Homo sapiens: one gene and its partners. The protein of the gene in region 4 interacts with the protein of the main gene of each other region in a biochemical or structural test. Each region holds a gene or a part of one and is shown on either strand. Other genes may lie near its edges.

What was found.
Region 1: the proteins of RADIL (region 4) and TYRP1 interact in a test that uses a peptide from one of them, tested with the Homo sapiens proteins (one large-scale study listed by IntAct).
Region 2: the proteins of RADIL (region 4) and SCN5A interact in a test that uses a peptide from one of them, tested with the Homo sapiens proteins (one large-scale study listed by IntAct).
Region 3: the proteins of RADIL (region 4) and SLC45A4 interact in a test that uses a peptide from one of them, tested with the Homo sapiens proteins (one large-scale study listed by IntAct).
Region 5: the proteins of RADIL (region 4) and KIF17 interact in a test that uses a peptide from one of them, tested with the Homo sapiens proteins (one large-scale study listed by IntAct).
Region 6: the proteins of RADIL (region 4) and MARCHF3 interact in a test that uses a peptide from one of them, tested with the Homo sapiens proteins (one large-scale study listed by IntAct).
Region 7: the proteins of RADIL (region 4) and NRXN3 interact in a test that uses a peptide from one of them, tested with the Homo sapiens proteins (one large-scale study listed by IntAct).

The regions. Positions count from the first base shown.
Region 1 is NC_000009.12:12,696,385-12,699,884, forward strand, and holds part of TYRP1 (5,6-dihydroxyindole-2-carboxylic acid oxidase precursor), read left to right. Parts: intron 1-2,066; coding exon 2,067-2,271; intron 2,272-3,500. UniProt on the Homo sapiens protein: Plays a role in melanin biosynthesis. Catalyzes the oxidation of 5,6-dihydroxyindole-2-carboxylic acid (DHICA) into indole-5,6-quinone-2-carboxylic acid in the presence of bound Cu(2+) ions, but not in the presence of Zn(2+).
Region 2 is NC_000003.12:38,639,688-38,643,187, reverse strand, and holds part of SCN5A (sodium channel protein type 5 subunit alpha), read left to right. Parts: intron 1-3,500. UniProt on the Homo sapiens protein: Pore-forming subunit of Nav1.5, a voltage-gated sodium (Nav) channel that directly mediates the depolarizing phase of action potentials in excitable membranes.
Region 3 is NC_000008.11:141,252,789-141,256,288, reverse strand, and holds part of SLC45A4 (solute carrier family 45 member 4), read left to right. Parts: intron 1-1,517; exon of another isoform or gene 1,518-1,659; 5' UTR 1,660-2,059; coding exon 2,060-2,300; intron 2,301-3,500. UniProt on the Homo sapiens protein: Proton-associated sucrose transporter. May be able to transport also glucose and fructose.
Region 4 is NC_000007.14:4,877,217-4,880,716, reverse strand, and holds part of RADIL (ras-associating and dilute domain-containing protein), read left to right. Parts: intron 1-2,513; 5' UTR 2,514-2,577; coding exon 2,578-3,112; intron 3,113-3,500. UniProt on the Homo sapiens protein: Downstream effector of Rap required for cell adhesion and migration of neural crest precursors during development.
Region 5 is NC_000001.11:20,687,008-20,690,507, reverse strand, and holds part of KIF17 (kinesin-like protein KIF17), read left to right. Parts: intron 1-172; coding exon 173-320; intron 321-1,684; exon of another isoform or gene 1,685-1,981; intron 1,982-2,563; coding exon 2,564-3,120; intron 3,121-3,500. UniProt on the Homo sapiens protein: Dendrite-specific motor protein which, in association with the Apba1-containing complex (LIN-10-LIN-2-LIN-7 complex), transports vesicles containing N-methyl-D-aspartate (NMDA) receptor subunit NR2B along microtubules.
Region 6 is NC_000005.10:126,867,214-126,870,386, reverse strand, and holds the end of MARCHF3 (E3 ubiquitin-protein ligase MARCHF3), read left to right. Parts: 3' UTR 1-2,673; downstream 2,674-3,173. UniProt on the Homo sapiens protein: E3 ubiquitin-protein ligase which may be involved in endosomal trafficking. E3 ubiquitin ligases accept ubiquitin from an E2 ubiquitin-conjugating enzyme in the form of a thioester and then directly transfer the ubiquitin to targeted substrates.
Region 7 is NC_000014.9:78,173,373-78,176,872, reverse strand, and holds part of NRXN3 (neurexin 3), read right to left. Parts: intron 1-3,500. UniProt on the Homo sapiens protein: Neuronal cell surface protein that may be involved in cell recognition and cell adhesion. May mediate intracellular signaling. Functions as part of a trans-synaptic complex by binding to cerebellins and postsynaptic GRID1.

The DNA of each region.
Region 1 (3,500 bases), on a different chromosome or scaffold from region 4:
CTTACAGAAGAAACCTATTAAAATATCACATCACTATATAAGAGGACAGATATTTTAATTTGCTTGGCTATAGTAATCACTTTACTATGTATATTTATATCAAAGCACCATGTTGTACACCTAAAATATGTAAAATTTGAAAAAAAGTTGAAAAATATCAAAATAATTATATCAGTCAGGCAATATTTTTAGTGAAAAGACATTGGCTTTTTATTTGGCACAAAGTGAACCTCAACTCAAGCAGTTATTTCATGCTTATTTTCTAAGCAGATAAGCTTCAAACATATTAAAGTATCTAGTTACGTAGATTCTTTACTCTTATTTCTTTTACCAACTGCTCTGTTCCTTGAGAAAAATATGGAAATTTTAAAATAAAAGTTTAAGTTGTTAGATCTCAACTAGGAAATCCACAAAGTAAACCTGTTTTCTATGTGAAATAACAGCAATGAATCTCCCCCTTCAAGTTAAGATATAAAAATTAAGCTAAAAATATCTGAAGAAGGGAAAGGCGTTTAGATTCATTTATTAATTTGCAGAATGCTGTGCCAGCATTATTCCGAGAAAAAATAAATGGTTAGAAGAGAGAGAATTAATGCACTAACATACAGGATAAAATATTCTTTTGAAAGTACACTATCCATTTGCAGTTTGAGAGTGATTAAATGAATTCATCTGATACTCTGAACGTCATATTTTATAGCTCTGATTGCAAGTAAGACATTTAGTAGATTATAGATAAATCTGTCATTTGTAATTGACTGCAGATCTTCATGCCTTCAAGTCATTTTCTCATGGGCACACCAAAATGAAAGGGCAGGTGGAAAGTATCTAAAAGCTTCAATTTTGCCTGTGTAAACTTCAACCTCTATGACTTACATTTTAAAGACCCAACAGCACAAGGGATGCAACAAATTAGAATTTAAATGTAATTCGTGGTTGAAATGCCACATGAATATGCTCTGGCTCCCAAATGTCAGTTGCTGAACCACAAACCGATTCTTAATGATCCCTTGGAAGCTGTCACTAATTTTTGTGAACCACAATGATGGCTTCTAAAGGAGGACTACAAACCCCTGGAGACCAATAACTGGGGATAACTTGGAAAGCTTTTGGCTCTCTAAAACACCCAAGGATAAGAAAATGCTTCCTAGGAAGGGATTTAAAGTGAAAAAGTAGAAATATACTGAGTGCTTGAGAGATAAGATAAAACAATTGCAATCCCTACATTTAAATCCCATACCATAAATAGAACTTCTCAAGGCACCAAAGAAATGAGAAATAACAAGGAAATGTATGTTTTAAAGAACCGAATGAAATAAGCATGTGATCTTGAGGCCAGCATTTTTAAAAATGTGAGATCAGCTTTGAATGGAAACTAGGTCTCTGATCTAAAAAACAATGGGCAGAAAGATTTACTCTGCTTCTGTTTAGCATTTTTATCAGTATAAATTTAGGCAGAAGCCTGAGTCTTAAAAGTTTAGATTCTAAGGCAGGGTTCCCTAAATAAAACACCTTCCGTGCTCAGTGTGAAAGAGTCCATTGGCCTGTTGCCAAACCAGAATCTAAATGCCTAGTCATTCAAATTAAATTTAAAAACAGAAGCAAAACAAAAATTAGCACTCCACAAAACATATTTTAAGGCTGGATCTGGCTCCAGACTAAGAGTTAATGATGCTTGAATTAAAGATAGGAAAATGGAAGAAGGTGGAAATGCCAAGAAGTGGATGTTGTTATTGATAACTTTTTTGTATAACCAATATAAATGTAATTATCTGCCTAAAAAAGAAAAAGAAGACCCTTTATCCCTTTAAATCATTTTCAGAAATGTCTGCATAATGAGTTGAGTTTCATTCCCTCTAATGCCTAAATGACACCTTGTAATAAATTACCAGCTTTGTTAAATAAGGTTTTAACTCCTCTGGGCCCCTCAGACACCGTTGATATACTAACCAGTACCTTATTGTCTGAAGAGAGCTAATAGAAATAGACTGTCAGAGAGTAGACCAAACAGAAATGAATAATTGTAAACAGAAGCAGAGAGTATTAATGTGGTTTCTGTGATCTAGGAAATGTTGCAAGAGCCTTCTTTCTCCCTTCCTTACTGGAATTTTGCAACGGGGAAAAATGTCTGTGATATCTGCACGGATGACTTGATGGGATCCAGAAGCAACTTTGATTCCACTCTAATAAGCCCAAACTCTGTCTTTTCTCAATGGCGAGTGGTCTGTGACTCCTTGGAAGATTATGATACCCTGGGAACACTTTGTAACAGTAAGTTCCAAATGATAGCTTGGAGTCAGAATTTCTTTTTAGATAAAGAGATTAAATATGTTGCCTGAAAGGCCCTTCATTCTACTAGAGAATTCAGACTAAAATCTACTTTTATTATAGAGTAACAGTGTACCAGGCATTCATTAAACACCTAGAATGTTCAAGGTACTCTAGAAGTTGCTCCAGGGGAAACAGAAAGTGCCTACACATTTTTACACTGCCTTTCTTGAGTAGTTTGGTCAATATCTTGCTAACTTTCTTATTTTGGAAATGTCTAGTTGTATAAACTAATCCTCTTAGTTTTCTTAGCACTACTTAGAAGTCATGTGTCTTGTGTTGGAATTTCACAGAAAATGTTTCCTAAGAAAATGTGAAAAATAGGCAAAAAGTTGGAAATGCCCTGGGAAGAAAAAAAAGAAAAGAAGCAAACCAAATGTATGCTTGCAGTTATAAAGTTAGAAAACAAAAGCTGATATGGGGGATAGTTTTCAGAAAAGGAGTATATTGTACTGATGTCTGCCCCCTAGCTGCTTTCCAGCTCTTCCAAAGTGAACACAGTAAGAGTACGCCTAATCAGTTGTCCCAGCATCCTTTCTCCAGTGATCTGAATGCCACCACTGTCACAGGTCAAGTTTCTGCCACATGTAGATCTCTTCCTGAGCTTTCTGTTCTCCTCCTTGGATCATATTATTATTTGTGCCTGTGGTAGTAACACAAGGTTTAATTATTAGACACCCCCTACCTCATCTTATTTTTCTTCTTCAGGCATGTATGGCTCTTTTGATTGTTCTTCCATATAAAAATAAGAGTTATGTGAATTTGTTTTCTTATTATAATCACCACATACTTATTCTACATGTATTATTTTATGCATCAAGTATTATTTTATGAACTTAAATAAGAAATACTCTAAATAAATCAGCAGGAATTAGATACATATTTTCACCATTAGATTATTTAGCAATGTATAGGAATAAGAGAAGTGATAATATATGAAAATTTCCTCTGTAGAAGTTTAAAACTTAGAATAAATTTGTATTTGTTTGGTATGCTGAATGCATGATCCCACCTTGTGGCAGAGAACTGAAATTGAGGATCAGGATGTCTGCAGATGCCAAAATGTTTATACTCTTTGTGACCAGGCCATTGTATTTTGGCCTGAGAGTTTTCTAGACATTTCCCAATCACCCTGATGATTGGATACCAAAATAAAACACAGTTTAAATGAG
Region 2 (3,500 bases), on a different chromosome or scaffold from region 4:
GGCTGAGGGCCAGAGACCACCCACCCCAGCCTCTGTTCCTCATGTTCTGCTCATAGACGTGGTCAGAAGAAGACACGGGAGCTCAGCCGGCCATTTGCAGCGACAGCCTCACCACTGTGCTGGGTCAGATGCAGCACAGACTGCCAGTTAAATAAAGCGACAGCTAGTTGCCAGCAAAACTGGAAACCCAAGGAAAGCCCCCACTTGCTTGCGGAGCCTAGGTGCCTATTAGATGTCTAATTGCTGAGCTTCTGTTTCAGGAAGTCCGAGGGAAGGAGAGATAACAACTCCCTAAGGATCCCTTGGGGTCTATGGTCCCCAGAGATAGCTGGACTTCAGGTCCCTTCCAGTCCTCGCCTTTTATGATCAAATTAAGGACACGTCCCCAGATGGGTGACTTGTATTCACAGTGCATTACACAGGGAGCTTAGATCACACTCGCCAACAAATAAAAGGTAAAAATCTCAAACATCGTGTTGAGTAAAAACAGCCTGACACAGAAGAGCCCATAAGGTAGAATTCCATATGCATGAAGTTCCAGAACAGGCAAAACCAACCTAGGTGATAGAAATCAGAGCAGTTGACTGAAAGGAATAGTGGGACTTTCTGGGGTGAGGGGATGTTTGCTGTCTTATTGGAGTGGCACTCACACAGGTGTATGCATTTGTCAAAACTCATCCAACTGTATACTTAAAGCATTTTCTTGTGTTTAAAGAGTACCTCAGTATGAAAGAATATTAAGAAAAAAGGGTTGCACATTTGGCTATAATACATCATGGACACTTTTGTGGCATAAATTTAGTGTATTGGTTGATTGGCTTATTTCCCTCTGGACACTAAGAGACCCTAGAGGTGGGCCTCCGAGGTTTCCATCTCTCTTGGTGCACACAGTAGGTGCCCCATAAATGCCTCAGTTGCCATGGCATCAGTGCACAGTTCCTCTGTGAAGCTTTTTTTCAGCTCAAGTATTGAGAAAAATGAGTTGGAAGGAATTGAGCTAGAAAGAGACTTAGAACGCTGATTGCTGTCTCGGGCACCTGTGTGCCATGACGGTGTTTCCTGGGCCACATGTGGGCACCTTTCTGGCCTGATTATGTATACCATGTGTGTTTACACAGAGATGGTCTGGGGTCCGGGGTGGAATGCCCCTGGGTGACTAAGCTGGCACTCCAACTCTGGGTCTCTGTGGTTTCAGGGTATTAGACCATCCAGGTCCCCACCCTGGAGACCCAGGGCCAGGGGCAGTGCTGCCTTGGCTGACAGCGAAGTGCCACTCAGCATATTCTAGATACCCTGTGGATGGACCTGGGCATGTGTAAAGGGGCTGACAAAGAAGACTCGGGCCTGGGGTAGGGGGGTGCCCTATGCACTTTGGAGGGGGTACCTGAATGACCTGGGCCTTTTGCAGTTCCCCTGGCCTGGCACCCAGACACTGATGAACAGTCGATGGGTTGAATAAGCTGCTGCCAAGCCCCCGGCCCCCATCCTTACTGTGGGGAAGGGCTATGAAGAAAAAAGCAGGGCCACCCACCTTTCAGTGAAGAGAGTGGCTACCCCCAGGCCAGTTTGTCCTTGGGAGGTGGGCAAAATTCAGGGCTCAGGCCGAAGAGCCCACTCTTCCTCAGCTCCCACCTCTGGAGGAGGACCCGGTCTCAGGCACCCCCATTTCATTTCATCCCTGCCTGGGGAATCACTTCAGCAGAGCAGCAGAGCTAAAGCGGGTGGGGTTTTCCTGTCAGCTGAATTAGCCTCGGCTTCAGCCTGGGTGTTGGAATAAATGAGATGTAAATGTATGTAAATGAGGGCATTCCCTGGCTTCAGGGTGGGTGTGTTCTCCTCCACCTCCAGGAGGGATGGGGATGATTCTTCAGGACTTAGCAAGATCGCTGGAGGCGGAGATTAAGAGTAGAGAATGACAGGCTCCTCAGACTCTCCCATCTCCCCCAGAACTGGGCTCCAGACTGGACAGGGTTAATGCCTATGCAGCCTCAAAGGAGCGGAGCCTGTGGGGAGCTGGTTAGCTGAGGCCCCGTGCAAGGACGGACCAATGTGCCTTTGATCTGGGAGCAAGGACCTGAAAGCACAGGCCACCAGCACCAGCTGGCACCCCCACTGAGCCTTTGTCCAAGCTGTTAGCCCGGGAGAGCCGAGACTGTGCAGACAATTGCCTGGGCGGGAGGGATGGTCTGAAACTTACTGTCGATCTCTCCCACTTACATCCCCCACCATCCCAACCTGTGGCTTGAGCCTCCACAACCACCCACAGCCACTGCCAGAAACCAGGATGGGCACTTTCTGGTCTGCGGGGGACAATGCTCTTTCAATCCTTCCCTGAGGCCCCCGCCCCCAGCCCCACCCCCAAAGCAGGTAGAAGTCTTCCCCACGCCCACCCTTGCCCGAGACAGAGTGTCGCTCTGTCGCCCAAGCTGGAGTGCAGTGCAGTGGTGCAATCTCCGCTCACTGCAACCTCTGCCTCCCGAGTTCAAGCAATTTTCCTGCCTCAGCCTCCTGGTAGCTGGGATTACAGGTGCCTGCCACCACGCCCAGCTAGCTTTTTGTATGTTTAGTAGAAATGGGGTTTCACCATGTTGGCCAGGCTGGTGTCGAACTCCTGACCTCAGGTGATCCACCTGCCCCGGCCTCCCAAAGTGCTGGGATTACAGGCATGAGCCACTGTGCCCGGCCTCAGGTAGAATTTTTTTAAGGGCTTAGGGCCTGGTGGCTGGAACTTGATGCCAGTGCCATCCAACAGAAATATAATATGAGTCACAAATGCAAGCCACATATGCAATTTTAAATTTTCTAACAGCCACATTTTTTAAACTAAAAAAACGTGAAATTAACTTGAACACATTTTATTTAATCCAGTATACTACTATCAAATATTATCTGTTTAACTTGTAATCAATATTAAAAGTTATTAACGAAATAGTCAACATTCCTTATTGTACTAAGCCTGCAAAATGGATGTGACTTTACAATAGCACAACTCAGTCCACAGTAGCCACATTCCAAGCACTTGGTAGCCACATGCAGTGAATGAGTGGCCACCCTGTTGTTGGACAGTGCTTGAGCTGGAGAGAAAAACTGCTGGGGAATCGCTTCTGCCAGGAAAACTGCTGACTCTTCGGGCATGGGCAGAAATCGGCTAGGTCTCCCTGGGAGCATCTGGGCTGCATAGAGGGAGAACCAGGCTCAGATGAGGCTGACAGGGCTGACTCTTAGCCTTGAAGTGGGGGTCACAGACACAGTCCAGGCAGATGGGCCATAGGCAAGCCATGAGCTTTTATCCCACTCTCTGCACGCAGAGGTAGGAGGCAATGTGGTGCAATGGGTAGGCTCACAGGCCTGGCTTCATACAGACAGGGGCTCACTTCATCTCTCCTACAGTCAGATTTCCCATCTGTAAAGCGAGGCTAATAACCCCCGTCTTCCTAGGATTGTTGCAAGGATGAAGTAAGGTGATCCACGAACTGCACTAAGTGCAGTGCAGGGCACAG
Region 3 (3,500 bases), on a different chromosome or scaffold from region 4:
GGTGTGTTTTTAGGGGCTCTAACACTTCAGTTGAACCGAACCCCATGTCTGGAGACCTAACTCCAGAAGTCCTGAACTTGGGGTGTTCCACATCCCCGATCTTATCTTACCTGAGGAGAGATTGACCTCATTTCCTAAAACATTTCCAAGGTGGCATTTCCAGTTAGCTTATTGCTGCTTTATTGTATGTGTTTGCCCAGGTGGGGAATTTGTCACCAAGCTGGGTTTGTCACTGGAGGCAGGGTGGTGGAAAGCCGAGGGTTGGGGTGATAGGGTTCCGTAGACCCTGGGAAAGCTGCGTGTGGGTTGGGAGTCTCCGAACCCCTAGGTACTATAGTCAGAGTTTGGCACATGCGTACATTTTTTTCTGGAGAAAAGGTCTATAATTTCATTTTATTCCCAAGAGGTTTTATAACCTAAAGGCCAATACCACAGGAGTCCAGGTGCCTTTGGGTAGACTTCGAACTCCCCCCGGACAGAGAATCATGCTATGCTCATTCCACCCAGCCTCCTACTTTTCATTTTTCTTTTCTTTTTGTTTTTTTTGTTTGTTTGTTTTTGTTTTTGTTTTTTGAGACAGGGTCTCACTCTGTTGCCCAGGCTGGAGTGCAGTGGTGCGATCTCAGCTTACTGCAACTTCCACCTCCCGGGTTCAAGTGATTCTCCTGCCTCACCCTCCTGAGTAGCTGGTATTACAGGCGCCCGCCACCATGCCTGGCTAATTTTTGTATTTTTAGTAGAGATGGGCTTTCGCCATGTTGCCCAAGCAGGTCTTGAACTCCTAATCTCAGGTGATCCACCTGCTTCAGCCCCCCAATGTGCTGGGATTACAGACTTAAGCCACCGTGCCCAGCTGCTTTTTATTTTTAATTTCCACCTCTCCAGGCAGGGTCTACAGTTTCCCTTTTTGGCTGGGCACGGTGGCTCACACTTGTAAATCCTAGTGCTTTGGGAGGCCGAGGCAGGGTAGATCGCTTGAGCCCAGGAGTTGGATACCAGCCAGGTCAATGTAATGGGGACCCTAGAAAAATTAGCTGGGTGTAGTGGTGCATGCCTGTAGTCGCAGCTACTCGGGAGGATGAGGTGGGAGATCACTTGATTCCAGGAGTTTGAGGCTGCAGAGAGCCATGGTCGTGTGACCGCACTCCAGCCTGGGCAACGGAGCGAGACCTTGTCACTAACAAATTAAACTTTTTTAAACAAAAGTTTTCCCTTTTGATTCTCTTTTGCCTACCTCCCCCACTTTTCCCTTCACCTCCTTACTTCCCTTTCATGATATCTGCAGCCACAAAGGGTGTCGCCAGCTGCCTCCAGCCTGCTGGAATAGTTACGTGCTGTGGTACACAGGGTGGACGATATTGTTACTGGCCAAAGAGTGAATATTTCCAGCGTTTTTCTCTGTCTGTTCTTTGATCCTGCTTTCCTTGATTGCCCCACCTTTGTCCTTCCCCAGGATTCACTTTCGTATGAGAAAATGTTTTTCTAGAAAGTAGGTTTGGTTATTTGCACAGACGTACCCAGAGTGAGTGGCAGAGAGCTGTGTGATCTTGGGTCGGGCCCTCGGGGCACACGGCTTGCTCGGGGGTCGGGCGGCGGTCCACAGGGCCATCTGGTGGCCGTCCCCTGACTCTCTGGCCGGGTTGTTTTCCTCTTTTGCAGATCATCCAGTCACTCGATGGGGATTACCAGCGGACCACCTGTTTGTATCACCTTCCCACCTCTCTGTAGCAAGAAAAATCACTTCAGCACCTCTTCAGTAATAATGATGAAACTGGTATTAACTGAATGGCAATTATGGATTTTTAACTCTAATTCACAGTAAACCAGCAAGCCATATGTTTAAAATCCAACCAAAAATCGTTCTGTGTTGCTGCATGTCTCATACCGTTGTGAGAAGTTGTGAGATAGCCACTTGTGCAAAGAGGAATGTAAGTGTTACCTGCCCGAGGAACACAGCAGAAGCAGAAAGAGAAGACGTCTTAATTTATCATTACAGATATATGAAAGCATTATTTATATAGATAGAATATATAGATAAATACATATATTTTTGGTGGTAATGAAAATGGCTCCGCAGAATGCCGACCCGGAATCTATGCAAGTTCAAGAGTTATCCGTGCCCCTGCCGGACCCGCAGAAAGCCGGAGGCGCAGAGGCCGAGAACTGCGAGACCATCAGCGAGGGGTCCATAGACCGAATCCCCATGCGCCTGTGGGTGATGCACGGGGCGGTGATGTTTGGCAGGGAGTTCTGTTACGCCATGGAAACCGCTCTGGTCACACCAATACTGTTGCAGATTGGTAAGTCTCCTCCCCGTCTGTGCGCAGTGAACGCTGAGCGGAGTGCTAGCGGACTGGGCGTGGCTCTGATCCTCTGGAGGCAGAGGATGGTGCGTCCTGGAGAGCCCCGGGCACTGGAGTCTTTGTCTCCTCTCCCTTCAGCCTGCCCTGATGGTGGTTTTCGTCTCCTGTTTTCAGCCAGGTTTGGGGAGGAGTGATCTTCGGATGTTGACGTTGAATTACAGTTTTGGCAAAGTGGTAGCTCAGCATCTGGGGCAGAATTGGCACTGATAAGTACTGGCTCTCGGCCGGGGCTCACCTCTCCCGCTGTCCCTGCCAGGCCACAGTGAACAACGAGGCAAAGGGCAGGGTCGCCAGCACTGACAGTCACTGGCTGTGTCATGCAGGCGAATTCGGGAGCCCTTCTGTGCCACACTCTGATTCTTTGTGTGTAAAGTGATTGCATTCGCAAACCAACCCTAAGAGGGTCCCAGGTGTGCTTAGAACAGTGCCTGGCTGTGGGAGATACTGGAAGATGCTGTCATCTTATCATTGTTGCTGTTGACTTGAATCCAAGGTTATTGTGGACAGTAGATGGCTCAGAGACAGGCATTTCCAAAAGCATGGAAATTCACAGGCACGCACAGGTGGGCATGAAAACACGGAAAATCACAGACGCACAGGTGGGCATGAAAACACAGAAATTCACAGACACACGCAGGTGGGCATGAAAACACGGAAATTCACAGACACACAGGTGGGCATGAAAACACGGAAATTCACAGACACGCAGGTGGGCATGAAAACACGGAAATTCACAGACCCGCAGGTGGGCATGAAAACACGGAAATTCATAGACTTGCAGGTGGGCGTGAAAACACGGAAATTCACAGACACTCGCAGGTGGGCGTGAAAACACGGAAATTCACAGACACTCGCAGGTGGGCGTGAAAACACGGAAATTCACAGACACAGGTGGGTGTGAAAACACGGAAATTCACAGACGCACAGGTGGGTGTGAAAACACGGAAATTCGCGGACACGCACAGGTGGGCGTGAAAACACGGAAATTCACAGACACGCAGGTGGGCATGAAAACACGAAAATTCACAGACACACAGGTGGATATGAAAACAGAAATTCACAGACACGGGCAGGTGGGCATGAAAACACGGAAATTCACAGACACGCAGGTGGGCGTGAAAACACGGAAATTCACAG
Region 4 (3,500 bases):
CTGCCTGGTGGCAGAGGCTGTACCATCCACCACCTGCACTTTGCCTTTGCACCCTGGGGAACCCGTTGGAAATGAGCACTATGAAAAGGTGGTGGCCGACCCTCTGCCAGTGTGTGCTGCCTGGAGGCTTCTAAGCCTGGGGCATCTGGAGAGGTGCTTTGGAGCAGGGTTGTGCAGCTCTCATGGATGGTTAATAAGTGCCGGCTGGAGAGGCTCTTTGAGGGGTTTTGTTCTGTGATTCCAAGTACTCACTTTGAAAACTGACCACAGGAGACTGAGGTCAGACTAGAGGGCGATTGGAAGCCGCTGGTGTGGTGTGCACAGGCCAGGCCGCACGTTTGTGATGTGAGCACTGTCTGAAAATGCTTTTGTTGTAAATGAAACCGAGGCCTTTGATGAGTCCGTGGGGGAAGCTGCGGCCGGCTCTGAGCTTCTTAGGATTTGACAAGGCCACTCGTTGCACCTTCCTCAGAGGAAGAGAAACAAAGGCTTTGCTCCTTTACTCCTTTATGGCCTGGCTCGATGGAACCTCAAGGCTCCATCTGCTTATGACCTGTACTGGGAACTCCGTGACCTGTTACAGCAAATTCACCTCTTCAGAAAGCCAGGCACAGCGAAAGCCTTTGCCGTGGTGAAGTGTCCGCAGTGGGCTATAGGAACAGGAGAAGGGCCAGCCACCCACCCCGCAGGGCAGACGTCCGCGTTGGGAACCCAGTCTCTGGTGTGCGAAGCTGTCGGAAGTATTTCTGAAGAGTTCAAGGTCCTCGGAGAAAGCACAGCTGCTGGCTGACCTGGGCTGGTTCTGGAGGAAGCGAGTGGTGGTCTGATTTCAGGACTCACCCATGACAGCTCTGGCGGGCAGTGAGAGGCTCCAGAGAAGATGACCCACGCCCCGGTGATATTAGAAAGAGGCCAGTTCGCAGTGTCAGCTTTGGAGGCTGGGGCGGTTCCACTGTTTAGTTTCCTAAGGGACAGTGTGGCTCCTTTTCTTTGGAGGGGTTCCCTGGTTGCTTTCTGTGGCCCTAGGCAGCCACCGTCCTTTCCAGAAGCCTTTTGCAGCGCCCGCAGCGTGACGAGTGAGTCAAGCCTGGACAGTGACAGTTGGCTGCTGCGGTGTTTAGTACTGACCCCGGTCGCAGTGGCAGGCGACCCGTGCTGTGTTCACTGGGACCTGGACCACTCTTTCCAGAGCTTTCCAGAAAATAGGCTTTCCTCCTGGCTCACTCGTCTGCCACCTTTGTCTTTGGTGAGAACATGAGCACGGAAGTGGGGTACAGTAATGGGGAGATGTGTGCGCAGTTTTCCAGTATTTTCCTGCCTTGCAGTCCAGCCTCACCTTTTCCAAATCGGAGACCTGCCTTCCTTTTTCTCTGCCCTCCTGCCCCCACAGAGGTTCTGGAGGGAGACTGAGAAACCATCTGGAACTCCTGGCCCTGGGCACGCTACGGACATTAGAAGTGTGATTGTATGACACGCCAACGCGTCCCAGGCTGTTTTCCCGTTTCCCCAGGAGACTGCATCTCTGTGGCCTGGAGCGCCGGGCACCCGCGGCCTGTGGTGGGCGGGACGCCTGCATTCCGGCCATGCCTGCACCGGCTCGAGAGGGGCCCTTTGTGCCCGCCGTGCTTGCGAGGCCACTCAGTGCTGCCATCCCAGGGAGTATCTCCTTCAAGCCAGGACGGGTCTCTTGCCCTGAGGGGTAGATTCTGGGGGTTTGTGTCTGGAATGTCTGATGGTCTATTCTGCCAACGTGGCTGCGATTCGCCTGTTTTCCTGGTTGCACTGTGTTTGTGACCCATTTCCCACGTCGCAGCCTGTGGGGTAGGAGACACGAGGTTTACGGAGAGGCGAAGCTTTGCCCTTGGGCTGCCCGCTGCTCTTCTGTGGCTGTGATGGTGCTGGGGCCGGCTCCGGGTGGGGCGCTCCTTGATGCTCACTGCACACGGGCGCTGCGCCCAGCACTTTCCAGAAATCCAAGCCCTGCAGCGGAGCGTGTCTTACTTAGGCGACCTCATTGTGTTTCCCAGTAATGGCTTTCCTTGAAGGGCGCTCCAGCCCGTTTAGTCCTCTCGGTCTCTGGTGGCCCTGCAGGCTCCAGCCACATCCTCTGCTCAGGTGCTCTGGTGTCAGGTCTGCGGGGCCAGGATGCCCACGGCCTGTTATGTCCATTAGATTTTGAGATGGGGTCTTGCTCTGCTGCCCGGGCTGGAGGGCCGTGGCACTATCATAGCTCACTGCAATCTTGAACTCCTGGGCTCAAGCCATCCTCCAGCCTCAGCCTTCAGAGCAGTGGGTACAGTGCACACCACCATGCCTGGCTAATTTTTAAATTTTTTGTAGAGCCGGGGCCTTACTATGTTTCCCAGGCTGGTCTGGAACTCCCGGGCTCAAGCCGTCCTCCCACCTTGGCCTTCTAAAGCGCTGGGATGACGGGCAGGAGTCACCGCCTGTGGCCTCATTTGCTCTTGGTGGTCACGATGGTTGGCGCTAACCTCTCTCACTTTTTCACCCAGGTCACGGCCTCCCCACATCCTTTGGCTGAAGCCCACAGTCCTCATCCATGAAGCCTCACCCACCATGTTTTATGGGACGCACTTCATCATGTCCCCGCCCACCAAGAGCAAACTGAAGCGGCAGAGCCAGCTGTTGTCCAGCATGCTGTCCCGGACGCTGAGCTACAAGTACCGGGACCTGGACTCCACCTTCTCCAGCCTGGGCGCCAGCGATGACCCCGCCGAGCTCTCCACCCAGCTGTCGGCCCCTGGTGTCCTGAAGGTGTTTGGGGACAGTGTCTGCACAGGAACCCACTACAAGAGCGTCCTGGCCACCGGCACCTCCAGCGCCCGTGAGCTGGTGAAGGAGGCGCTGGAGCGGTACGCCCTGGACCCCAGGCAGGCCGGCCAGTACGTGCTGTGTGACGTGGTGGGCCAAGCCGGCGATGCTGGGCAGCGGTGGCAGGCCCGGTGCTTTCGGGTGTTTGGGGACAGTGAGAAGCCCCTCTTGATCCAGGAATTATGGAAACCCCGAGAAGGTTTATCCCGGAGGTTTGAGCTGAGGAAGAGGTCGGACGTGGAGGAGCTGGCAGCCAAGGAGGTGGACACCATCACGGCAGGTGAGGGGGGCCACAGGTTCAGGAAGAGCCGTGGGTCTGAGCGCTGAGAAGGCCAGCCGAGGTAGGCGGAGAAGGAGTGGTGCAGGGGACATGCGTGGGGCGGGCTCGCTCTGCAGGAGGCAGTCGGAGCCCGTGTCCTGGATGTTTGAAGCCTTCCTCTTTTGTTCTCTGAGACAGGGTCTTGCTCTGTCACCCAGGCTGGAGTGCAGTGGTGCAACCACAGCTCACTGCAGCCTCCTGGGCTCAAGCGATCCTCCCACCTCAGCCTCCTGAGTAGCTAGGACTATAGGTGCACCACCACACCCAGCTAATTTTTTACTTTTTGTAGAGACAGGAGTCTCGCTGTGATACCCAGGATAGTCTTGACCTCCTGCCCTCAAGCGATCCT
Region 5 (3,500 bases), on a different chromosome or scaffold from region 4:
AGTTTGGAAAGGTCTTCACCGGCAAGTAATTATCACAGTGTTGTACCATTGGATTCTCTTGGCTTACTTATAGGTTCTGTATTGTTTGAATAACCAAAAAGGAATACTGAAAGCTGGGTTTCAAAATGATGATAAAATGCTGCCTGCCCTCTGGTCCCTCCCACCCCCCCAGGAGTATGAAGAGCGCCTGGCCCGGCTGAAAGCCGACTATAAGGCCGAGCAGGAGTCTCGGGCCAGGCTGGAGGAAGACATCACTGCCATGCGCAACTCATATGACGTCAGGCTGTCCACGCTGGAGGAGAACCTGCGGAAGGAGACAGGTGGGCACCCCTTGCCCCCCGAGGCTGTCTCCAGGGAAGGTGGCCTCCTTTCCGCCTCACTGCAGTAACTGCATCACAGAGCATTTTCTACACCCGAGGATCAGGTCTGTTTTATCCTCACAATGGTCCAGTAAGGTAGGTACCACAATTATGCTCGCTATATAGATGAGGAAACTGAGGCACAGAGAGGGTAGGTAACTTGCCCATGGTCACACAGCTGGTAAAGGAGAGCCAGGATTTGAACCCAAGCAGTCTGGCCCCAGAGCCAGTGTTCTCACCCACAGCACTGCACTGGGATGGCTTAGCCATGGACTGGGCCCCAGCTCAAGGCTGACTGTGAGCTGTGAAGTGCCACCCTTTCTTTAGAGGCCAGTCCCTGCCCCGAATTGCTGTGTTTTCCGGTCTCCTCTTACTTTTGAGCCTCTCTGTTAGCAAAGCAAACACATTCCATAATAAGGATTTAATCCTTAGCCACAGCTGTTTACCTATCTGGAGGTTTTTGTGTTCTTTTTTTTTAAAAAAAAATTTCTTTGTTTTGAGATGGAGTCTTGCTCCATCGCCCAGGCTGGAGTGCAGTGGCATGACCTTGGCTTACTGCAACCTCCCCATCCCGGATTTAAGCAATTCTCGTGCCTCAGTCTCCTGAGTAGCTGGGATTACAGGTGCACACTACCACACCCGGCTAATTTTTGTGTTTTCAGTAGAGACGGGATTTCGTCATGTTGGCCAGGCTGGTCTCGAACTCCTGGGCTCAAGCGATCCACCTGCCTTGGCCTCCCAAAGTGCTGGGCTTACAGGCATGAGCCACTGCACTCAGCCTTTAGTTTTTGTCTTCTTTTTGCCACCCTAGGATATTCTGCCATACCAGTGTCAGTCAAACACGCATGCTGCCTGGAGGTCCAGACTTCCTAGCACTCATGAATAGTGTAGAATCCAGGCCTGGAATGATGATGATACTGATCGCACCGTCGGTACCGCTTGTTGGCACATTACCACGTGCCGGGTACTGTGTGGGTGCTTTACCTGCACCTCCTCACTGAGCCTCTGGTCTCCCCAGTCCAGCGAGGTAGGACTCCCTGAATCCTCCCATAACTGTGTGGAAACCAAGGCTGAGAGAGATCCAGGCCATTTAGCTAGGGAGTGGGTGCCATATTTCAGCAAAGGGAAAAATCAAGACCCTCTTACAGGAGTCTGGGACATAACGATAAAGAAATGGGTGGGAGGTATGAGAGGCGCCGGGAGCCCCCTGAACTGGAGCACTAAGGGGCCCATGTGAATGCAGCCCTGTCTCCGCTGCAAGGGAGACGCGCTCCTGGAGGAGACCCAGGGGAAGGGGAGGGAGCAGATTCTAGCATTTTATGCCCTTTGGAGTGTTCCCTCCAGTCCAGATTGAATATGAGGCCTCCAGCAGATCTTCGTCTGGCTTCTGGAGCTCTGACATTCATCCACAGCATTCATTTAGCTCCCGTGGATCTAGCATATCCAGTGGACAAGAGCCCTGGGCTGGCCACTCCAGTGAGGGCTCCGAGGGCACCCGGGCATGAAATCTGCTGAGCTCTCAGCCTTGGAAGGCAACAAGGCCCCAGGAAGCCTGCCAGTGTGCGAAGAGTGGTCCCAAGGCTGGGTGTGACTTAAGAGCCCAGCACTCAGTGGCTGTGGAGGTCAGAAAATGGAGGAATCCCAGCGTTGGTCAGGGAAGGCTTCCTGGAAGAGGTGGAAGGTGGTAGGGTTTGGGTTCTGATAAAAGCAGAGATGGGAAGGCAGGCAGGCTGTAGCCAGCCTCTGGAGGGTCTGGGAGGCTCTGACTCTTAAGCTGGTCTTTTAGAAACAGTGGGCTTGGGCCAGGCGCGGTGGCTCATGCCTGTAATCCCAGCACTTTGGGAGGCCGAGTGGGGGCGGATCACGAGGTCAGGAGATCGAGACCATCCTGGCTAACATGGTGAAACCCTGTCTCTACTAAAAATACAAAAAAAATTAGCCAGGCATGGTGGCGGGTGCCTGTACTCCCAGCTACTCGGGAGGCCGAGGCAGGAGAATGGCATGAACCTGGGAGGCAGAGCTTTCAGTGAGCTGAGATCGCACCACTGCACTCCAGCCCGGGCGACAGAGCAAGACTCTGTCTCAAAAAAAAACAAAAAAAAAACAAACAAAAAAAACAACACACTGGGCTTGGAGCCACCTTCTAGGGAAGGGTCTCTCATTCTGACCCTTTAAAAACCTGAAGGAAGTTCTCCATTTTGCAGAGGCTGTCCTGCAGGTGGGAGTCCTCTACAAGGCTGAGGTCATGTCCAGGGCTGAGTTTGCCAGCAGCGCTGAGTACCCGCCTGCTTTTCAGTATGAGACAGTGGTGAAACCCAAGGTCTTCTCCACGACTGACACTCTGCCCAGTGACGATGTCTCCAAGACTCAGGTTTCCTCCAGGTTTGCGGAGCTGCCCAAGGTGGAACCCTCCAAATCTGAGATTTCTCTGGGCTCCAGTGAGTCATCCTCGCTCGAAGAAACCTCTGTGTCCGAGGCTTTCCCTGGGCCTGAGGAGCCCTCCAACGTGGAGGTCTCCATGCCCACTGAGGAGTCCAGGAGCAGATACTTCCTGGATGAGTGCCTCGGGCAGGAGGCCGCTGGGCACCTGCTGGGGGAACAGAACTACCTCCCGCAAGAGGAGCCGCAGGAGGTGCCCCTGCAGGGGTTACTAGGCCTGCAGGACCCGTTTGCCGAGGTGGAAGCCAAGCTGGCCAGACTCTCCTCCACCGTGGCCAGGACAGATGCACCCCAGGCAGACGTCCCCAAGGTCCCTGTGCAGGTAGCTGATGTCACGCATGGTGCCATGTGAACACTGAGCAGGCAGAGCTTGCCCAGGGCCCGGAGCTCACTGTGCACACACTGTTCACACACATGGCCTCCGACACTCAGGCCGTGGCTCCACTGTGTCTGCTGCGGCTCTGGCACTGGTGGCTGGCTCAGGGGCACTGGTGTCCAGGGGTTAGGGAAGGAGAAGCTCTGTCTCATGCTCTGTAATTCAATAAGAAAGTTGGGGTCGCGATGCAAGGTTATGCCAGGTGGGCTCCCGTTCTGCAGATGGAGGGACAGCTGTACAGGGCGTTTGCCCAGTTGCCATGGTTACAGTGAGTGTCCAGGCCTGACGGAGCCCTGGGCGACGCTCACTGGCTCGTGAGCTCTGTA
Region 6 (3,173 bases), on a different chromosome or scaffold from region 4:
GATACTGTATGGAATTTTCTGAACACCTCTTTAACGTATGAGGAAGGTTGTCCTGCTACGGATGCAATTCAATTCTTCCTTTTTTATTACTATTTCAAACACACACACATATATATATATATTAAACTTAGATGATAATCAAAATCAAAAAGTCAACGTAAAAACTGGTTTCTTGGTTTGGTTGGGTCTTATTTGAGTTAGTTTGTTTCTCAGTTTCTCGTATGGATTCTTTGGGGTACTTTGGTAGCCTGAGTGGTCTTTTTCATCTCTTTCGCGTCCATTACTCAAGGAGACAGCATAACAGATGCAGAACAAGTCATATTTGAAGAATGTTTTGTACTAAACTTCATTTAATTATTCAGTTTTTAAAGGGAAAAAGGGCGTGAGCTCACACAGTGAGCTGTTTATTTAAATATCATTAAGGAGAAAAAAAAATATGGTGAGAAGCTCGCTCCTTTCAACTTGTTTGGTACTGACAGCTGATAGAAGCTATTTTCTAATAATAAACATCCAGTGTGTGAAAGACAAAACCCACTGATTGCAATACTCTTTTTTTAATGATAAAACCTGTGAAGTTTCCCAAAGCAGGTTTTAAAAGGAAAAAAAGGAAAAGCAAAAAGGTTGCTGTTCTCACTCCCATCTCATTTAGTGCATGTCTTAATTCGGGATTCGTAATGAATTGGAGGATCATTAGACATTTCTAGGAACCCTAGACCTGTTTTGCATGTCAATTAGCATTCCCATTGCTCTATTGAATTTCTAGCTTGACAGGTAGATGTGGCAAAAAAAAAAAAAAAAAAAAAAGCCTGTCCTAGCAGCCCTGCACTTATTCTAAGACCCCTTTGTCTGATTCTTTAAAAAGGAGCCCCACACAGTGCCTTCCCCCAACCATGAGCCAATTCTGTCACAGTCCGAAATAGACTTTTTCTAAGGGTTTCGTGTCCCTCTTTTATCCGTCGCAGTGTAAAGGGTCTGATCCGCAGCCTGCATTGTGCGCGCACCGAGGCAGGAGCGGATGTCTTCTGAGGAGAGCGCTGGCTGGGGTTGACTCTCAGGCTCCCGGCTGTCCGCCCGCCCACACGCAGCGAGGAGGGGCGGAGCCCTGCTTCCGGAATGCTTAAAATATGGAATTCTAGAACATGACCCACATTCTGAGTATCACTCCAGCATCTGCCTTGTGTTCCAAGTGGGAAAACGAGAAGTGCAAAGGAACAGGCAGCGAGGAGGGTAGCGATTTTTGTCTGCAAATTGATGGAGCTGATGCAGGTGTCCCCTTTGTAGGCGAGCCCTCCATTCACTGGCTGCTCCCAGCGCTGCCTGGGGAGGGAAACAGCTGTACTGCTCTCCGCTGCAAAACTCAGATGTGCTTTATGGCTTGTGACAATAGATTTCCTCCCCACCACGCTTCACTGGGACACTTCAATTCCAGTAATATATGTCTCAGCCCTTCTGTTTACTGCGCCCTGCTCACCCCCCTGGGCTGTCATTAGCTGCACCACCATCAACCGTTTCTTAATTGACCTTTTTAAAATGCTGGACATCACCGGCTGCACGCAGCTGCCACACATTAAATTTCCAGAGCAAAGAGTCCAACTTGGTAGCTGGTGAATTGCAGCCCTGTAATATACTTAATAAATGACGTCCACCCAGCCTTAGTCCCTGAGCTGTCAGGTGAACCCGTGACACGTCTCAACTGAATGGCACAACATTCATGAGAGGACCATACCCCTTCTCCCTGTTTCTTGCATGAATTAAGGAAGCAGCGGATTTCCAGGATGATTTCCTGTCAAGGTTGGCTGCAGAGAATTCCTGCCATCTTGGTTCATGAGATGAGATATGACATCATCAAAGGCAGCCAGGTCCCAGGCCGTTCAATGGGGATCCTGCATTAGGAAGGGTTTGCACATTAAAACTGTGCCTGTGCCACACCTCTTTCCTTCGTGTTTGCATCCCTGCCCTGTGAAGTAAAACAGAGTCCAAGATGCAAGGAGTAGATTGTGTGTGGGGTGGTGAAAGGACACCCCTGGCAGCCAGGCAGAGCATCAGTGCCTCCCTTCCCAGGTCACCAGCTTGGGACCTCCTTGTGAGAGGCTCTGATCTCCATCAGCATCAGGGCCCATAGGGGATTCTGAACTCTTGGAGGATATTTCATCCCCTCCAAGCCTTGCCCCATGGAAAGGGCTACACCTCCTGCAGGAAGGGGTGCCTTTTGTTAACAGGTATTAATGGGTACAGAGGCACCATGCAGCCTACCAGCACCCTTGCTAGCCTAGTCCTCTTCCTGTGCTTCTTTTTGAAAGATCAAGAATGAAGAGGAAGAGATGAGGAGTGGGGGTCCTTTACCTAAAGGACCCTCGTGGTTCATTGCTTCTCTTTAACTGACTTTTTAAAAAAACTCCCTCTTCCACACTCCTTGCTGTGATTCTGTCCTAATCATTTTTCTTGAGAATGTCATGTAGAGATAAATGTGTGTCACAGTGAAGCCAGAAGGTGAATTAACAACTAAGACAAATCCAGCATGCTCTTGCCTGCCCTGCATATGTGCTCATTTGGGGAAGGACGGAGGACACAGAGCATCGACACAAATTCTACAGCTCCTCAGAGAACACAGCAGAGACTCAGATGAGCTGTAAAATCCATTAAGGAAAAATAAATGGCATGATTTGGAAGTTACTTTGATTTGTCTTTCATTGTCCTAGTCTCCCCTGCCCCTAGTGCCTGGGCCCTGCCGTGGATTGTCACTTTCAGTGGGGCTGTAGCCATAGGCATTTCATTTTCAGTGAAAATAATTCATCTGCGGCATGGAGGAGCCAAAGGAGAAAATGGAGGTGAAATCGCAGCCCAAGTGACCCCACAGTTGGGCAAGCAGCCAGCTTCCGGTTCCACTTCCTCCTAGATCCTTATTGTTCCCATTGGGACACTGACCCTGGCTGGGCTCTGGGTCTGCGCCTGCACCGTGCATCTTTCTCCCATATTGGAATCCGCTCAGCCTTGCCTGACACTCCACACAGCTTATGGAGCTGTCCACACTAGGAAATGACCCATGGCCCAAAGAACCTGAGTAGGAAAGACAGCTAGAAAATGAAATCAGGAAATGCTTCCTTTCCACTTCAATCCAGAGTGTTCCTAGAAGCTGCCTGAAGATCTGCCACACAACTTGTAGTCCCTAGTGC
Region 7 (3,500 bases), on a different chromosome or scaffold from region 4:
TACCACCCACCTGCCCCACCAAGACCTCACTCCCCTCTGAAGAAAGAGAACTAAGAAGGCACCCCAGGCAGCCCCCACAGCAGCAGCTGCAATACCCTTGGAAAAGGGCCCACAGCCCACCAGGCAGCATGATGGAGTAGAAAGAGCCCTACCCTGGCAGCCAGGAAACCTTGATTCTAGTTTTGTCTCTGCATCAAACGTGGTGCATAACTTTGGAAAAGCCATGTAGTCTCTCTGGGCCTCCATCTTGTCATTTGTACTTGAGGGCACTGAATAAGATGACAGATGATTCATCTCCCTTTTTCCTCTAACACTATAACATAAGGGTCCCATGCTTGGGCTCTGGCATGAGACAGATCTGAATTCAAATCCTCGATCTGTCATTTTATTAGGTAACTTTAAGTCTCAGTCTCCTCAGGTAATAATAGTATACTGCATTGAGTTGTTTGGAGAATTAAATGAGATACCGAGTGTTAAAAAAAAAAAAAAAAAAACTTGGAAGAGAACTTTGTAAATAGTAACTACTGCAGAAATGATAGCTATATCACGACTATTACTACCACTACTATGATGATGATGAGAATGGTGATTACTAATATTAGAGGGATCTCAAAGGAGGCAGAGTCATCTGAGCCAGGGATAGAGAAGCCCTTTCTACTAAACTACTGAAGTTGAGCATGTTGCAATTCCTCCAGCAGATCTAGACATTCAGGCAGGGCTAAGACAACCAGAGGCAAAGTCCACCCTTCCCAGAAGACAGGCCACAAGTGCTAGAGAAGAAAACTCCAACACTAAACCCATGTGGTTCTTTCCTCCAATCGACAAACATTTGTTGAGCACCTACTACGTGTCAGGAAATGTCCTACGCACTAGGAACACCACAATGAACACAAAGTCCTTGACCTCTCAGAGCTTGCATTCTAGAGGGGTAAAGAGACGAGATCCATCTTAAATGTTTCAATATATCATCGTATAATATAATATTAAATAATGATTCACCGATTAAAATTAAAGACAGTGTCATGGGCTGGAAAGCAGCCAGGAGGTTGGGGTAAGGGGACTATTTTAGAAAGCTGGTCAGGAAAGGTCTCTCTGAGGAGTATAATTTGAGGAACAACCTGCAGGAAAGGGCTGGGAGTGGGCCCCATCCATAGTCCCTGCCCCGAGCTCAGCATGGCCAACCTGCCCCGAGCCCAGCATGGCCACCTGTGGCTGGCCCAGCCACAGCACCGCACTTGCTTCATCCTCAGAGCAACAGAGCTGGCCCTCAAGGCTCAGAGCTGCAGCGCAACAGTTCTTCCCCCAGCAGGTCCCGGACCACAGCAGGAACCGGACCACAGCAGGAACCGGACCACAGCAGGTCCCAGACCACAGCCGACCACGGGCCAGCACATTTCTAGGCAGTGAGGTTTTAGAAGGAATGCTTCTTCTTTTGCAAGTCTCCTATCCACACCTGAGGGGTCATGTAAGGAGAACACGGCCGGGGGATACCAAGAACAATCTCTTCTCTGCATTGGGCACAATAATTTACCCCCAAGGCATCCTACTCCCCATTTATCCCCTTTCTCTGGCAATGACGTAACCCTGTCTCCCTAACTCCTCAGGGTCAGCCCCAAGAAGGGAGAGGGATGCTAGAAAGGTAAGACCATCAGCATTTTGCTCTGAGGATTTTGTGATTTTTTTCTTTTAGGCAAAATGTTTTCCAATTTCACTTATAATTACTAATAAAGAGAGACACACCTTCAGCTGAAGATGGGAAAATGGCGTCCGGTAGTTAAGGCAGCCAGAGCCCAGGAGAAAACAGGGGCTGGGCTGCTCTCACGGCCGAGGGTGATTTCAGCTCCTTCAGGCTGCAGCCTCCAACAAGGCCGAGCCGCCCAAGAGGTGGCTGATGCCAGGGGAGCAAGACCACCCTCCCGAGCTCAGCCCCAGGCTCTGTCAAGGCAGCAGGGAAAACCCTCAATTTCACCCACCTCATCCCCTTCTCCCCCTTCAATCTGTATCCGCCCACCAGTCATCCATGAGCCACCCACCCACGGGTTCGCTTGGTGGACGTGGGGATCTCATTTGAGGCTTCCTGCTGGAGGCAGGAGCAGTTTCTTCCCCTCTACCCTCCTCTCAACTACCTTGAGGACTCTTCCCCACTGACCATCCCTGCTTCTTGCCTTCCTTCCCCGTCACTACCACACCTGTCCAGAGCCACCGTATGAGGCTGGATACGCACATATCCAACAAACACAGCCACACCACACAAAGAGGCAGGCAGCCTCCTGCTTGAACCACACGCACAGTGTTGACAATCCTATGTTGTCCAATTGGAGGCACGCTGGTGCTTGACAAAACACAAACACCCTTCCAGTCCCCACCCGTAAACCAACACAAAGGCCACCAAGAATTTCAAGACCCAGAATCATCTGTAGAGAGGAGAACTGGGTCGGACAAAGACATTGTTCCATCCTCCCAACTAACCATCACAACTCTCTGGGATATTCTGCAGTGCCCTCTGGTTCGACACAGCCCACTGATCAGAGCTGTGCGTGTTGGTGTGTGTGAGAGAGTGTACACATGTGTATGGGGGAGGGGGCTGTGGCTCTACTGTCCAGGCATCAAATCTCCCCGGAGGTAACCCCGTCAGACTCTGCCTCCCCCACATAACCTTCCTCCAATGTACCGCAAACATATATTTCATGGATGGTTAAATTGGATCATTATCACTGGGTGCTTATTTGGTCAAAAAAAATTATTAATGTTATCTACCCCCATTCCAATCCCCTGCTTGTGAGGTCCCCTCCCACAAAGACTCTCCAACATGCTAATCCCATGAACTGCGACACACGACAGCTTTAGGGAAAGAATAATGGCGAGAAGAAAGAAGACCGCGGTTGCGGAGAGGAAAAGAGGCTCTAACGTGACCGCAGTCCCCATGCAAAGATGGGGGGAAGGAGCCATGGTGGAGGTAGAGTGGGGAAAGAGGTTAAGGGGAATGAAACCAAGCAAAATGAAGCCCTTGGCGCCTGTGTATGTGACAGAGACTGTGTGTGCAAGAGCGTATGCCAGTGTGTGTGTGGATGTGCCGACTTTGCCCTCCTATCAGAAGGCTGCATCCGTGTGGCATGTAGGAAAGGCCATCGCACGACTGTTGTGTTGCAAAAAAAAAAAAAAAGCAAGGAAAAAGGGAAAAAAGAGCCGCAGAGCCATCAAAATCAGAATTTTTTTCATGAAGATGGAAAGGGCTGGAGGAAGGGGGGGTGCGCCTAGGGTGGGGGGAGCAGTGTGTGGAAATAGAAGGCAAGATCATGGCAGAATTGGGGGAGGATGGAGGGGGAGATTGGTGGTGGGATGAAAAAATTTCACACACACACAGAGACACAAGCACACACAATGCCCAGACGCCAACCCGACCGCTCCACTGTTCATCCAAGACTGACAACCCGTCCCCCATCTCTCCGCTGCCTCTCCATGCCCCCAAAGCTGGTGCCGATGGATTTCTGTATCTCAGT